Homo sapiens: one gene and its partner. The protein of the gene in region 2 interacts with the protein of the main gene of each other region in a biochemical or structural test. Each region holds a gene or a part of one and is shown on either strand. Other genes may lie near its edges.

Region 1 (7,000 bases), on a different chromosome or scaffold from region 2:
CTGATTCATTACAAATGATTAAATTTAGTTCTATTCTGTCTGCCTAATGGGCCAAGGAAGTATGTAATACATTTTTAAAGGATTGAAACGAAAATAGTTCTGCTAAAGAAATAAACTGTTTTGGTACTTAAATCCTTCAAACAACCAGGAACAAACGCCCAAACTAGTTGCCCCAAATATCCTAATCTGTGTAACAGACCTATTCAAAATGGTCCAGATCACCAGGAGCATGGTGGCTCACACTTGTAATCCTGGCACTTTGGGAGACCAAGGTGGGAGGACTGCTTGAGGCCAGGAATTTGAGACCAGCCTGGGCAACACAGCAAAACCTTGCCCCTACTGAAAAATATATAAAATTTTTTAAAAAGAAAAAACAATTCAGGTAACTTGAAATGTTCATTTTTAAGGTGATGAAATAGATGCTAAAAAGACTCACCTTCATTGTGATCTAACCAATCTCAGCCACATTAACTAAGAGAAATGTCATAAGACAAAACCACAACCCCTCATGTCACATCCCCCAGCCAAACATGCCCCAGCTTTATTACGACGCAATTTCTTAAAATAATTCTTCCCGTTTTTACATGTAGTCAGTCATATGAATTTAAAAAATAAATGCAACACATTTAGCACTTGTTCGAGGCATGTGGGAAATCAGAAAAATGAGGGAGCTCTGAACCCTAAACTCAAAGAGCTTTTAGAATCTACAAGAGATAGAGCATGGTAAGCAATTTAACAGAAGGCCAAGCAGGCTACTACGAGAGTAATGATGGAGAAAAAAAACAAATTTAGGGTCACTTAAACATTTCTCTATTCAAAACAGTACTGTCACACACATCTTAAGTTATCAAATAAAAAATAAAGTATTATTTACTATTTCTCAAACTCTTTAAATAAAAGTCTATTTATTTATTTTTTTTCTGACAGTCTCACTCTGTTGCCCAAACTAAAGCACAATGGTGCAATCTCCGCTCACTGCAACCTCGGCCTTCCAGGTTCAAGCTATTCTCCTGTATCAGCCTCCCAAGTAGCTGGGATTACAGGTGTGAGCTACCACACTAATTTTTGAATTTTTTTATAGAGACATGGTTTCACCATGCTGCCCAGGCTGGTCTCGAACTCCTGGGCTCAAGTGATCCGTCTGCCTCGGCCTCCCAAAGTACTGGGATTACAGGCATGAGCCACTGCGCCCAGCCTAAATAAGTCTTTGAATTCAAATAAGGTATAAAAAATGTGTATCTTTAATTTATCCAAAAAAAGGTAAAAGTCTCTTATAATCCCATCACCCATAGAACAACCACTTCCTATTTTAATTTAAATGAAGATTTGAAAATTAACATGGCTAACCAGGAAAAAAAAAAAAAAAGTCTGAGTATACTGATACTAAAAAGGGAATTTATGTAAAAAGTAGATAAGCTGTTGTGAACTTTGTAACCAAAGCTACAAAGGATTGAAAGCAATCCTTATTTTAAGATTATAAGCAAAGTTTTTTAAAACACCTTAATGATTATTAATAACTATTCCATGTCTATTTATAGAAAAATACCTTAATTATAATGATTATATGTTAATTACAAATACTGACCTGGCACAGTATCTCGCACCTATAATCCCAGCACTTTCGGAGGCCAAGGTGGGGGGATTGCTTGAACTCAGGAGTTCAAGACCAGCCTGGCCAACATAGTGAAACCCCATCTCCACAAAAGATACAAAAATTAGCCGGGTGGGGTGGTGTGCACCTGTAGTCCCAGCTACTGAGGAGGCTGAGGTGGGAGGATCTCTTGAGCCCAGGAGGTCAAGGCTGCAGGGAACCGTGATTGCACCACTGTACTGCTCCAGCCTGAGCAACATAGTGAGGCCTTGTCTCAAATAAATAAATAAATAATATTGTGTCATACATATAACTTCTCAACTTCAGTTAACAAAGGCTTGAAAAATTGTAAATACAATTGAGCAACCCTGATGCAAAAATCCAAAATCTGAAATGCTCCAAAATCCAAAACTTTCTGAGCACCAACATGGCGTCACAAGTGGAAAATTCCACACCTGACCTCATGTGACGAGTCGCAGTCAAAATGCAGACTTACAACAGTTTACTCAGTGTCCCTAAGGGAAAAATGAAACTACCTTCAGGGTATGTGTATGAATGAGATGTATATGAAACAGAGGAATTTCATGTTTACATTTGGGTCCCATCCCCAAAATATTTCATTATGTATATGCAAATATTCCAAAATCCAGGAAAAAAATCCCAAATCCAAAACTTCGGGTCCCAAGCATTTTGGATAAAGTATTCTCAACCTATACTGAAAGAAACATAACTGGAGCATTCCTCATTTAAAAGCACTGGCTCATGTCTATAATCCCAGTACTTTGGAAGGCCAAGGTGGGTGAGTTGCTTGAGTCCAGGGGTTCGAGACCAGACTGAGCAACATGGCAAAACCCCATCTCTACTAAAAACACAACAAATGTAGCCAGGCATGGTGGTGTGTGCCTGTAGTCCCAGCTACTTGGGAGGCTAAGGTGGGAGAATCACCCTAGACACAGGGAGGTTGAGGCTGCAATAAGCCCAAATAGCATCACTGTACTCTAGCCTGGGCAATCGGAGTGAGACTCTGATTCAAAAAAAAAAAAAAAAACTGCTTAAAAAAAGTAAACTAAAATAAAATAAATCCCTGAATCAGGCACAGTGGAACATGCCTGTAATCCCAGCACTTTGGGAGGCTGACGAGGGAGAATCACGACGTCAGGAGTTCAAGACCAGCCTGACCAACATGGTGCAACCCCATCTCTACTAAAAATACAAAAATTAGCCAGGGGTGGTAGTGCTCTCCTGTAATCCCAGCTAGTCAGGAGGCTGAAGCAGGAGAATCGCTTGAACCCGGGAGGCGTAGGTTGCAGTGAGCCGAGATCATGCCACTGCACTCCAGCCTAGGTGACAGAGTGAGACTCCATCTCAAAAAAAAACAAAAAACAAAAAAACGCCAGGCGCACTGGCTCACACCTGTAATCCCAGCACTTTGGGAGGCCGAGGCGGGCGGATCACGAGGTCAGGAGATCGAGACCATCCTGGTTAACTCAGTCAAACTCCATCTCTACTAAAAATACAAAAAATTATCCGGGCACATGGTGGGCGCCTGTAGTCCCAGCTATTCAGGAGGCTGAGGCAGGAGAATGGAGTGAACCTGGGAGGCGGAGCTTGCAGTGAACCGAGATCGCGCCACTGCACTCCAGCCTGGGCAACAGAGCGAGACTCCGTCTCAAAAAAAAAAAGGAAATATGTGCACACACGTTTGTATAATATGTAGGTGTGAACTGTCAAGGACTTGATCAATTTGGGTATTTCTTAGTCTCCTACTTAACAACAGTACTTATTACAAGAATTTGATAATTGCCATTTCTGGAAGAGAGAAGCAGGTAACAGGGAGAGAGAGAGATCTACTTTTCACTGCATGTCACTTCTGTATCCCTTAACTTTTTTTTTTTTTTTTAATTTTAGACAGAGTCTCACTCTGTCGCCCGGGCTGGACTGCAGCGGCGCATTCTTGGCTCACTGCAACTTCCACCTCCCAGGTTCAAGCGATTCTCCTGCCTCAGCTTCCCAAGTAGCTGAGATTACAGGCACCTGCCACCATGCCTGGCTAATTTTTGTATTTTTAGTAGAGACGGGTTTCACCATGTTGGTCAGGCTGGTCTCAATCTCCTGACCTCAGGTGATCCTCCCACCTCGGCCTCCCAAAGTGCTGAGATTACAGGTGTGAGCCACCATGCCAGGCCTGTACCCCTTAACTTTTGTACCCTGAGCATGCATTATCTATTTTTTAAAATTTTTTTAAAGTTTAGAATCTACTAAACTAACCTGACTAGTTCTGCAATTCCACATTATTTTTCTCACCATATGATGACAAACTGATGAGTAACAAACCAAAACAAGTTCTCCTGTTACAGCACAGTATTTCAACTATGGCCAGGCGTGGTGGCTCATGCCTGTAATCTCAGCACTTTGGGAGGCCAAGGTTAGTGGATCACCTGAGGTCAGCAGTTCAAGACCAGCCTGGCCAACATGGTGAAATCCCGTGTCTACTAAAAATACAAAAAATTAGCTGGGCATGGTGGTGCACACCTGTAATCTCAGCTACTTGGGTGGCTGAGGCAGGAGAATTGCTTGAACCCAGGAGGCGGAGATTGCAGTGAGCCGAGATTGTGCCATTGCACTCCAGCCTGGGCGACAGAGAAAGACTCTGACTCAAAAAAAAAAAAATTCAACTATATTAAAACACTTCAGAATGTTTCTCATAGCTATAGTGCTGTCAAAGCTTCAAGTCATTTTTTAAAAACTCACCAAATGCCTTTTTTTTCCAGTCTACACAAAATAAAAACAAGTTTTACTTGTCCCCGTTCAGAGTGTAGCAGGTCAGGCAGCAGTGATCCCAGCAACCCTGACTTACTCAAGGCTCAAAGTTAATTCCCTTCACTCCAAGGCCCAGCAGGAAAATGTCCCTTCCAGAATGGTTCTACTCTTCTACTGGAGAAAACAGAAACTAAATTATAAAATAGTTAGGCCTGCCTGGGAGAAAAAGAGAGGAAGGTGCATTTATCACCATGTAACCCTACAGGTGTTTTTGACCCTGTAAAATGTTGGCCACCAACAGGTGCTTATTTATGACCTTGCAAAGACATGGGATTAAACTACTAGGAACCTATTCCAAGACATGGTCAATCTGGATATTTCTTAGACTCCTGCCTACACCAGCACCACTCCCCTGCGCCCCCTACCATTTGGTGGTTTCCTCCCTTTAAGGACAATTCACGTATTGTTACCTCTCTGCAGGCTCCCAGAAACAAACACATAATACAAACATGCACACACTCCCCTTCATCACATAGATGATAACTGTGTTCCTTCTTTAACAAGACTAGGGAAATAGACGAGAGTCCGCACGCAAAGCATACCTAGGAGGTGATCAAATAGCAGTCCCCTTCTCCCTCACCTGGAAGACATTCCTTTTATTTTTAATTTATCTAGGCTCACATCCAATTATTCACAAGTTTAGTCTTTTTTCCTTCAGCTGCCCCAACATTTCTGGAGCTAACATTTTTCCCTCATATACCTTGAAATAGTCAACTCATAAAGACTAAAACCTAGGAAGTCACTTTCAGCTCTTAATTTTGTTTTGTTTTTTTTTTTTGAGACCAGAGTCTCACTCTGGCCCAAACTGCAGTGCAGTGGCACAATCATAGCTCACTGTAACCTTGAGCTTCTGGGTTCAAGCAATCCTCCTGCCTCAGCCTCCCAAGCAGCTAGGACTACAGCACAGGCCACTACACTTAATTTGCATAATTAAGTCAGAACCTTGACAGTAGTTTCATATTTCTATTTCTCCATTTACATGTCTTGCTCTTAGAATTTTAGAAGCAGGTATTTTATATCTTTAAAGGGTTGTAAAACAAATTAAATAAGGAAGTTGCAGAGCCTAAAATATTCACCATCTGAGAGCACTTTAGAGAAAAATTGGCTGACTCTTATTTTAAAAAGCCTATTTTCACATAATTATAATGGTGACTAATTTTTTTTTTTTTTTTGGTAGAGCAGGGGGTCTCACTATGTTGCCCAGACTCCTGGGCAGCTCCTGGCCTCAAGCAATCCTCCACCTCCTGCCTCAGCCTCCGCCTCTCAAACTGCTGAGACTGCCGGTGTGAACCACTGAACCCAGCCCTTAAGTTTTATAATAATACGAAAATCGGCTCTTTAAAATAGGATTCAGCCAATTTTTCTCTAAAGTGCTCTCAGATAGTGAATATTTTAGGCTCTGCAACTTCCTTAATTTATTTAATTTGTTTTACAACCCTTTAAAAATATAAAAACCATTCTTAGCTGTTAAGACAAAAACAGGCCTAGTCAAATAGGTCACGAGTTTGCCAATCCCTGTTCTAAATGGTCAATTCACTTTTATCCACTTTTGTTTGTGGTCATTTTTCCCCTTGAGAGTTCTATTTAAATGATATTATTTGCATAATTAAGTCAGAACCTTGACATTAGTTTCATATTTCTATTTCTCCATTCACGTATCTTGCTCTTAGAATTTTAGAAGCAGATATTTAAGAAAGCAGAAAAGGGAACTAATAAAAGTAATGAGTAAGAATTAAAAAATGAAAAAGCCAAAACACCTGAACAATCCAAAACCATGCTAGAATGGACCAAGAGGTAGCTGAATGGAAGCATTATCTGAGCAATGTAAAATAGCCCAGAAATGAGTAACAAAATAAAAACTCATCTGAAATGAAACTTTAGGATGGAAGTTTTAGAAAGACAAGGAGAAACAAATTCTCAGGTCAAACCCACATATTTGTTAGTGTAAAAACCCTGAAGTCTCCTCCCAAATCCTTTCTCAATGTCATGCCTGAGGGCCACCTGGAGAGGCCCCCTTGGGAGGAGGAAGTTTTAGGTCACTAGATCTCCCGTCCTCTTCCCACTCTACATAAATCTATCTTCCACACTGCTCCCAATCTTCTAAAAGAAATCATGCCAGCACCCCCACTCCTCCATGCCCCACCCCCACTTAAGCCCCATCAATGGCTTCTCTCACTCCACAAAATACTGTCCACACTTGGTAGAGCAAGCAAGGTCAAGGTTACATGACATCACACTCTAGCCTCTTCCTAGGTCAGTTTTTCAACCACTAGTGTTCCTCAAATCACCTAGGGCATTCATTAAAATGAAGATTCCAAGGCTCCACCCTTCTCTCTGAAATGGATCCCCAGGGAAACTACATTTTACAAGTACCCCAGATGACCACATACCAGGATGCCAGAGGTCCACATTTTGAGAAAGAAACCTTCAAGGGGGTTGCTCACCTCCTCCTCTCACAGCAGAGCCACCTGCCCCACCTCCTTCACCTCCTCCCCACCTCCTTCACCCCCGGTCTCCTCTTCACCTTCTCAACCTCCCTCTTAAATCAGAAGATTCAACAGACTTTTAATTTAACAGCCCAGCTTCCGG
Region 2 (9,025 bases):
CATGATATGGAGTCTTCCTACCCATGAGCATGGAATGTTCTTCCATTTGTTTGTGTCCTCTTTTATTTCATTGAGCAGCGGTTTGTAGTTCTCCTTGAAGAGGAGAACTTCACATCCCTTGTAAGCTGGATTCCTAGATATTTTATTCTCTTTGTAGTAATTGTGAATGGGAGTTCACTCATGATTTGGCTCTCTGTTTGTCTATTATTGGTGTGTAGGAATGCTTGTGATTTTTGTAAATTGATTTTGTATCCTGAGACTTTCCTGAAGTTGCTTATCAGCTTAAGGAGTTTTGGGGCTGAGACGATGGGGTTTCCTAAATATACAATCATGTCATCTGCAAACAGAGACAATTTGACTTCCTCTTTTCCTAATTGAATATCCATTTCTTTCTCTTGCCTGATTGCCCTATTCAGAACTTCCGACACTATGTTGAATAGGAGTGGTGAGAGAGGACATCCTTGTCTTGTGCCGGTTTTCAAAGGGAATGCTTCTAGTTTTTGCCCATTCAGTATGATATTGGCTGTGGGTTTGTCATAAATAGCTCTTACTATTTTGAGATACGTTCCATTGATACCTAGTTTATTCAGAGTTTTTAGCATGAAAGGCTGTTGAATTTTGTCAAAGGCCTTTTCTGCATCTATTGAGGTAATTATGTGGTTTTTGTCATTGGTTCTGTTTATGTGATGGATTACATTTATTGATTTGGTATTTTGAACCCAGCCTTGCATCCCAGGGATGACGCTGACTTGATCCTGGTGGATAAGCTTTTTGATGTTTTGCTGGATTTGATTTGCCAGTATTTTATTGAGGATTTTCGCATCGATATTCTTTAGGGATATTGGACTAAAATTCTCTTTTTTTGTTGTGTCTCTGTCAGGCTTTGGTATCAGGAGATACTGGCCTCATAAAATGAGTTAGGGAGGATTCCCTCCTTTTCTATTGTTCAGAAAAATTTCAGAAGGAATGATAACAGCTCCTCTTTGTATCTCTGGTAGAATTCAGCTGTGAATCCATTTGGTCCTGGACTTTTTTTGGTTGGTAGCCTATTAATAATTGCCTCAATTCAAAACCTATTATTGGTCTATTCAGAGATTCAACTTCTTCCTGGTTTAGTCTTGGGAGGGGGCATGTGTCCAGGAATTTATCTATTTCTTCTAGATTTTCTAGTTTATTTGCATAGAGGTGTTTATAGTATTCTCTGATGGTAATTTGCATTTCTGTGGGATCAGTGGTGATATCCTTTTTATCATTATTTATTGCATCTATTTGATTCTTCTTTTTTCTTTATTAGTCTTGCTAGCAGTCTATCTATTTTGTTGACCTTTTTCAAAAAACCAGCTCCTGGATTCACTGATTTTTTGAAGGGTTTGTTGTGTCTCTATCTCCTTCTGTTCTGCTCTGATCTTAGTTATTTCTTGTCTCCTGCTAGCTTTTGAATTTGTTTACTCTTGCTTCTCTAGTTCTGTTAATTGTGATGTTACTGTGTCAATTTTAGATCTTTCCTGCTTTCTCTAGTGGGCATTTAATGCTATAAATTTCCCTCTACACACTGCTTTAAATGTGTCCCAGAGATTCTGGTACATTGTGCCTTTGTTCTCATTGGTTTCATAGAACATCTTTATTTCTGCCTTCACTTCCTTATTTACCCAGTAGTCATTCAGGAGCAAGTTGTTCAGTTTCCATGTAGTTGTGTGATTTTGAGTCACTTTCTTAATCATGAGTTGTAATTTGATTTCACTGTGGTCTGAGAGACAGTTTGTTGTGATTTCTTTTCTTTTACATTTGCTGAGGAGTATATTACTTCCAATTATGTGGTCAATTTTAGAATAAGTGCGATGTGGTGCTGAGAAGAATGTATATTCTGTTAATTTGGGGTGGAGATTTCTGTAGATGTCTATTAGGTCCTCTTGGTCCAGAGCTGAGTTCAAGTTCTGAATATCCTTGTTAATTTTCTGTCTTGTTGATCTGTCTAATATTGACAGTGGGGTGTTAAAATCTCCCATTATTATTGTGTGGAAATCTTAGTCTCTTTGTAGGTCTCTAAGAACTTGCTTTATGAATCTGGGTGCTCCTGTATTTGGGTGCATATATATTTAGGATATTTAGCTCTTCCTGTTGTATTGATCCCATCACCATTATGTAATGCCCATCTTTGTCTCTTTTGATCTTTGTTGGTTTAATATTCTTTTTAAAATAAAATATTTTAAACATATGAAACATTATGGAGAATGGCATGGGAAATATCCACGTATGCACCACCCAGCTTAACAAATGCTCTACTGTCATTTCTAACCATGGTCTCTTTGAAGAGCTCTTTTGTCTTTCAATGTCTCTTCCTTGTTTGGCCCACATTATCCTTCATCATATGAAGACTTGAGTGGCTCCTGTGTCAGACTCTTGCTGTGTGTCATACCTAATGAACTAGAACCTAAGATTACTGTGTATTGTACAACTAAGGGATTATGTAAAGTCAGGATCAAAGTCTGGCTTCCTGGGTTGGGCTCCAGCTGTAGAATAAGGCTGTTGATGTTTAATCAACTCTGTTTTTTTCACACAGCTTTTATGATGGTCAACAGCCTGTGCTGGCTATCACAGATCCTGACATGATCAAAACAGTGCTAGTGAAAGAATGTTATTCTGTCTTCACAAACCGGAGGGTAAGCATTCATGTGTTGAAATTAAAATACTGATTGATTAAATTTATATTTTGAAATTCTTATATATTCATAGACAGTTGCCTAAAAAATGTCCAGGAAGGTTCCACGTCCACTTCATCCTGTCCCCCCCGAATGGTAACATCTTGCAATCTTGCATAACTATAAATACAGTATATTCATGTTACTATATAGTACAGGAAATTGACATTGATACAGTTCACAGAGCTTATTCAGATTTCACCAGCTTTATGTGCCCTCATTTCTGTTCTATGCAAATTTATCACAATCATAGATTTGTGCAATGACCAGCATGATCAAAACGCAGAACCCATTTGTGTTCTATACAAATTTATCACATCATTAGTAGATTTGTGCAATGACCAGCATGATCAAGATGCAGATCCACTCTGTCTCCATGTGGCTCCCTCCTGCTATCCTACAGTCACAAGTCTTTTTCTCTGACAGGGTCCATATCAGAGCAAACTATTTTTTATTTTGAGGTGATCAATGTATTAATATTTCCTTTTCTGGATTGTACTTTTGGTGCCATGTTTGAAAGTTCTTTGCCTAGCCCTCCTTCCTATATTGCTGTTTTTTTCTAAAAGTCATAAAGTTTAATGCTTTACTAAATGTAGCTCTATTATCAATTTTGTGTTATTTTTTGTATAAGGTATGAGATTTAGATCAAGGTTCATTTTTTTTGTGGCTTATGGCTGTCCAATTCCTCCAACGCCATTTTTGGAAAGATGGGTATATTGTTAAAAATCAACTGGGCATACTTCTTTGCATCTCTCACGTACTACTGTGTCCCATTGATCACTGTGTTTATTATTCCACCAATACCACACTGTGTTGACCCTAGTAGCTGTACACTAACTCTTAACCTCGTGTAGAGTGATTCTTCCCACTTTTATTGACTTATTTTTTCAGATTTGTTTTAACTCTTCCTGGTCCTCTGCTTTTCCATAAAAATTCAGAATGAGTTTCTCAGTGTCTACAAATAAACGTGCTGTTATTTTGACAAGAATTGAATTAAATATATAGACCAGTTTATGGAAAATGTGTATCTTTACTGTTTGATCTTTCAATTCATGAACATAGTATGCCTCTCCATTTCCTTAGATTTTCTTTGATTGCTTTTAACATCTTGTAGTTTTCAGCATAGAGATCCTGTACATGTTTTGTTAGATTTACAGCTAAATTATTTCATTTTTGTTGGAATGACTGTAAATGATATTATGTTTTTCTTGTATTTTCAGATATTGATTGTTGTTACATAGAAATGTGCTTTGATTTTGTGTGTTGATCTGGTATCCTAGAACCTTGCAGAACTGACATAGTAGTTCTAGAAGTCTCTTTGTATATGCCTTGAGATTTTACACATTGTCAGTTATGTCACTTGAAAATAGAGACAATTCTTTTATTTCCTTTCCAATCTGTATGCCTTTTATTTCTTTTCTTTTGTCTATTGCACTAGGACTTCCCAGTATAATGTTGAGTAAATGTGGTGAATTTTTGAATTGTTCCTAATCTTAGGAGGGAAGCCTTCAGTTCTTTCATCATTAAGCATCATTTAGATGAAGTGGGCTGTTTTTTTGTAGATTCTCTTTATCAAATTGAGGAATTTTCTCTCCCTAGTTTGCTGAGTTTTTATCATAAATGAATGCTGGAAGTACTCATTATAAAAAAAATGGCTATGGAAGATGAAAGAAAGTTTCAAGCATGTTGGCTTGATAGGCCAGTTCCAAGTTGGCAAAAATAATTATCTCTTTTTTCTTTCTATCCATGAAATAAAAAATTAAGAGACAAGAATGTTTATGGAATTGCATTATTTCTTCAAAATATGTTCCTAGTTTTAAAGGTATTACCTACTATTTTTTTTAAAACCATCACATTGAGGCACTTCTTTTTCACGTTGCCCATGCTGCAGGAGAACATAAAGACAGCTTGTCTGAGGCAACATACAATCCACCAAAGTCACCTGCTTGTCTGTCTCCACTCCGTCTCTACACTGCAGAAGTGCTAGGTCTTGATTCTGTTTATTGTACTGGAAGAACACATTCTCTACCACGTGGATAATTTGCATGTAAAAGAAGACTGGGATATAGAGGCTGGAGACGACATCAGGGTCTCCTGAACACTGCCGCCACCCCCCCGCCCCGCCCCACACAAATACATCCCAGGACACTGGGCATCTGGGATAAATCTCTATTGAGCATCTAGCATAGGGCCCATCACCCAGTAGACAGTCACTAAATAGTTGTTGAATAAGTGTTCCTGTTTAACACATTTTCTACAACCATGGAGACCTCCACAACTGATGTAGGACAAAATGTTTCTGCTTTGAACTCTAGCCTTTTGGTCCAGTGGGATTTATGAAAAGTGCCATCTCTATAGCTGAGGATGAAGAATGGAAGAGATTACGATCATTGCTGTCTCCAACCTTCACCAGTGGAAAACTCAAGGAGGTATGAAAATAACATGAGTTTTAATAAGAAACTTAAAGAATGAATCTGGTGGGGACAGGTATAAAATAAGATCACAGTCCCTTTCCAAGGGGTAGTCCACTGAATTTGAGCTGCCTAAAAATGGTCTTTTATCTTTATGTACAGAAAACACATCACAAAATTCATTATAAAATGTCACTTACTGCTCCATGCTGGGGAAAGCCATGTCCTTCTGGGACTAGAGTCTGCACATTTAACTATGGGTGGTGTTGTGTTTTGTGCTTAGATGGTCCCTATCATTGCCCAGTATGGAGATGTGTTGGTGAGAAATCTGAGGCGGGAAGCAGAGACAGGCAAGCCTGTCACCTTGAAAGAGTAAGTAGAAGCGCAGCCATGGGGTTCTGAGCTGTCATGAACCCCTCCAGCTGCCTGCCATGGAGCTGATATTCCTGCTGTTGGGTTATTCCAGTGACCAGACAAAAGGAGGGCTGTGGTAATGCAACTTCAATGGGTCTCCCAAGATGGGGCAGCTCCGATGAGGAGGTGGGGCAGCTGGAGGAAAAGGATCTTCTCCCCTGTGCACAGGGGCCAGGGTTTACATATCCATTAAATTGTCACCTTGGATATTCTAGAAGACTAAATATATCCTTTAGGGGGAAAAAGTGTGATTGTACCAAAGTTTTAAGCATGGAGTGTATGGGATGGTGGAAGGGGAAGGCACTTGGTATCTGTTGGTTGGCAGTGAGTAGGTTGGGAGAGTTATAATGGAGAACTTAGAATAACTTTGATCATTTCATGTTTTTTTCTGAGGATATCAGTAGAATACTAAATATTAAAATTCCTACCATTTCTTTTTCCTCCAGTCTCAAAGAGAGAGGGTGGTAAAAACACTATAGGTAGGGCAAGCCTATTATTTGCTATCTACACTTATGCAGTAAAAACAGGTGTAATCTGAGTTTGTCCTGGGCAGACCAGGGATATGTGGTCACTCACTATAGAAATTTCCAAATCAAATTTTGAGAGATTTTTTTTTAACCAGGACATTATTGGTCATTATATTTTACAAAAATAATTCTGCTGTCAGGGCAACCTCAGCTCACCACAGCTGGGGATAGTGGAATTTTCCAAAGCTTGAGCAGGGAGTATAGAGAATAAGGATGATATTTCTAGGAGCTCAGAACAGGGTACTGTTGCTTTGTAAAGTGCTGAAGAGGAATCGGCTCTGGGCATAGAGTCTGCAGTCAGGCAATATCACCTGTCTTGAGCCCCTTAGGAAGAGTTAATTATTCTACTCTTGTTCTGCTGAAGCACAGTGCTTACCCATCTTGTATCATCCACAATCAATACATGCTACTGTAGTTGTCTGATAGTGGGTCTCTGTCTTCCTATGATGGGCTCCTTGATCTCAGAGGTAGGTCTAATTCAGTTCAGTGTCTCCATCACACCCAGCGTAGGGCCAGCTGCATCACTGGCACCTGATAACACCTTCTGATGGAGTGTGATAGAAGGTGATCTAGTAGATCTGAAAGTCTGTGGCTGTTTGTCTGTCTTGACTGGACATGTGGGTTTCCTGTTGCATGCATAGAGGAAGGATGGTAAAAAGGTGCTGATTTTAATTTTCCACATCTTTCTCCACTCAGCGTCTTTGGGGCCTACAGCATGGATGTGATCACTAGCACATCATTTGGAGTGAACATCGACTCTCTCAACAATCCACAAGACCCCTTTGTGGAAAACACCAAGAAGCTTTTAAGATTTGATTTTTTGGATCCATTCTTTCTCTCAATAAGTATGTGGACTACTATTTCCTTTTATTTATCTTGCTCTCTTAAAAATAACTGCTTTATTGAGATATAAATCACCATGTAATTCATCCACTTAAAATATACAGTTCAGTGATTTGTAGTACATTTGAAGATATGTGTGACCATCATCATTTTAAACTTTAAAACTTTTTTTGTCAATCTAGAGACCTCATACATTTTTAGCTATCAGCCCCCTGTCACAAACCCTGTCATCATATGCAACCACTAATCAACTTTCTGCTTCTATGGATTTGCCTATTCTGGACACTTCATAGAAATGATATTAATTCATCAGGGTTTTTTATTCTCTAGTTCATGAATTTGTACTTTAGTCTGTATCATTTTCTTTCTTCTGCTGGCTTCAGGCTTAGTTTGCCCTTCTTCGTTTACTATGTTGTGGCATGAACATAGATTACTGATTTGTGATTTTTTTGTTCCTCTAAATTTAGACATTACAGCTGTAACTTTCCCTCTGAGCACTTCCTTTGCTAAATCCCATGAGATTGTGGTCTATCACATCTTAGTTTTTGTTCACCTCAAAACAGTTTCTATTTGCCCTTTTGGTTTCTACTTTGACTCATTGGTTACTTAAATGTTTATTATTTAACTTCCACATATGTGTGAGTTTCTCAATTTTCTTTCCCTTATTGATTTTATCTTTATTCCATGATAGGTGACAGAGATATGCTGTGTTATTTCTATCTTGACTACCTACTATTTCTTGAACAGCAAGATTAATTTTGAGCTTCAGATTATGATTTGGGTTATTCTAGGAGACTGTAGTCCAATAGATAAAGGCAAAGAGATTAGGGCATTGAATTTTGTTCCTTTTATCCTTCAAAAGATGCACAAGGGGCTGCTGATCTCACTGCTGTAGCGGTGCTCCTTATGCATAGACCTGCCCTTGCTCAGCCACTGGCCTGAAAGAGGGGCAAAAGTCATAGAAGGAATGGCTTCCAGTTGAGAACCTTGATGTCTTTTACTCTTCTGGTTGGTAGAGAAAACTAGAATTGCTCCAGGTAAATTTTGCACATTCACAATGAATTTCTTTTTCTGTTTTTGTTTTGTTTTTCCTACAGCAGTCTTTCCATTCCTCATCCCAATTCTTGAAGTATTAAATATCTGTGTGTTTCCAAGAGAAGTTACAAATTTTTTAAGAAAATCTGTAAAAAGGATGAAAGAAAGTCGCCTCGAAGATACACAAAAGGTAAAATGTGGTGGTAGTTATAGGAGGATGTTTAGTTTTTCATAATTTTTTAGATAATATACATATGATCAGTGCAGTTACCTGTATGTTTTTAAAGAATGCTTTTAACATGAAGACTGCTCATGTTTAGAGCAAGAGAATTCATTTGGTAGAAATGCAGAAAGTGGGGTTTGGGGAAGGAGATATGAGAATGAGTCAGAGACAGCACATGAAATTTGATATCAGACACAACAATTAGTATGCCACGGCATAAATTTTATTGAGATAAAACTTTACCACTTTACTTCCCTTCAATAAATTGTCAGAGGATAAACATTACTGTTTGGAAATATATTTTACTGATATTATGCTTTCCCCAGATCATAAATTGGTAAAGACTCATTTCAAGTACAAACCTGTTATTTTACACATTCTCAAATGAAAGTCCCTATCAGGCCACCTGCTGAAGTGTAGCGTGTGTTAAATTTGAGCCATCTCACATGATAGCCAGATTTGTTTCAGGAAAACATCCTGCTTTCCAAGGATTTAGAAGGGTATGTTTTTCACTGGTGATTCAGGCAACATGCATCAGATTTCTGGTCTTCAAGGAGCCATATTCTCAGAAGGGAGATCAAGGACCACGCTTGTGATTTACTTCTGACTTCAGGAGCCACTTTCTGTCAGTGAAATTTCTCTTTTTGCTTCTAGCACCGAGTGGATTTCCTTCAGCTGATGATTGACTCTCAGAATTCAAAAGAAACTGAGTCCCACAAAGGTAACCAGAGTGTTTCTGAGGGCTACTTGTGGGGCACTCAGAGGGAAGGCCTTGTTCTGAAAATGTGCAGGAAGTATTCCAGGATGATGAGAATTTCTGCCACATAGCAGAACGACACATGTTTGAATGTTATAAGTGGTAGTTGGAGGCAC

Evidence for each region. The genes of interacting proteins can lie anywhere in the genome.
Region 1: of the proteins of CYP3A4 (region 2) and AMFR, one has a biochemical effect on the other in vitro, tested with the Homo sapiens proteins (4 studies listed by BioGRID).

The regions. Positions count from the first base shown.
Region 1 is NC_000016.10:56,415,546-56,422,545, forward strand, and holds part of AMFR (E3 ubiquitin-protein ligase AMFR), read right to left. Parts: intron 1-7,000. UniProt on the Homo sapiens protein: E3 ubiquitin-protein ligase that mediates the polyubiquitination of lysine and cysteine residues on target proteins, such as CD3D, CYP3A4, CFTR, INSIG1, SOAT2/ACAT2 and APOB for proteasomal degradation.
Region 2 is NC_000007.14:99,766,225-99,775,249, reverse strand, and holds part of CYP3A4 (cytochrome P450 3A4), read left to right. Parts: intron 1-2,560; coding exon 2,561-2,660; intron 2,661-5,014; coding exon 5,015-5,128; intron 5,129-5,393; coding exon 5,394-5,482; intron 5,483-6,747; coding exon 6,748-6,896; intron 6,897-7,991; coding exon 7,992-8,119; intron 8,120-8,353; exon of another isoform or gene 8,354-8,806; coding exon 8,807-8,873; exon of another isoform or gene 8,874-9,025.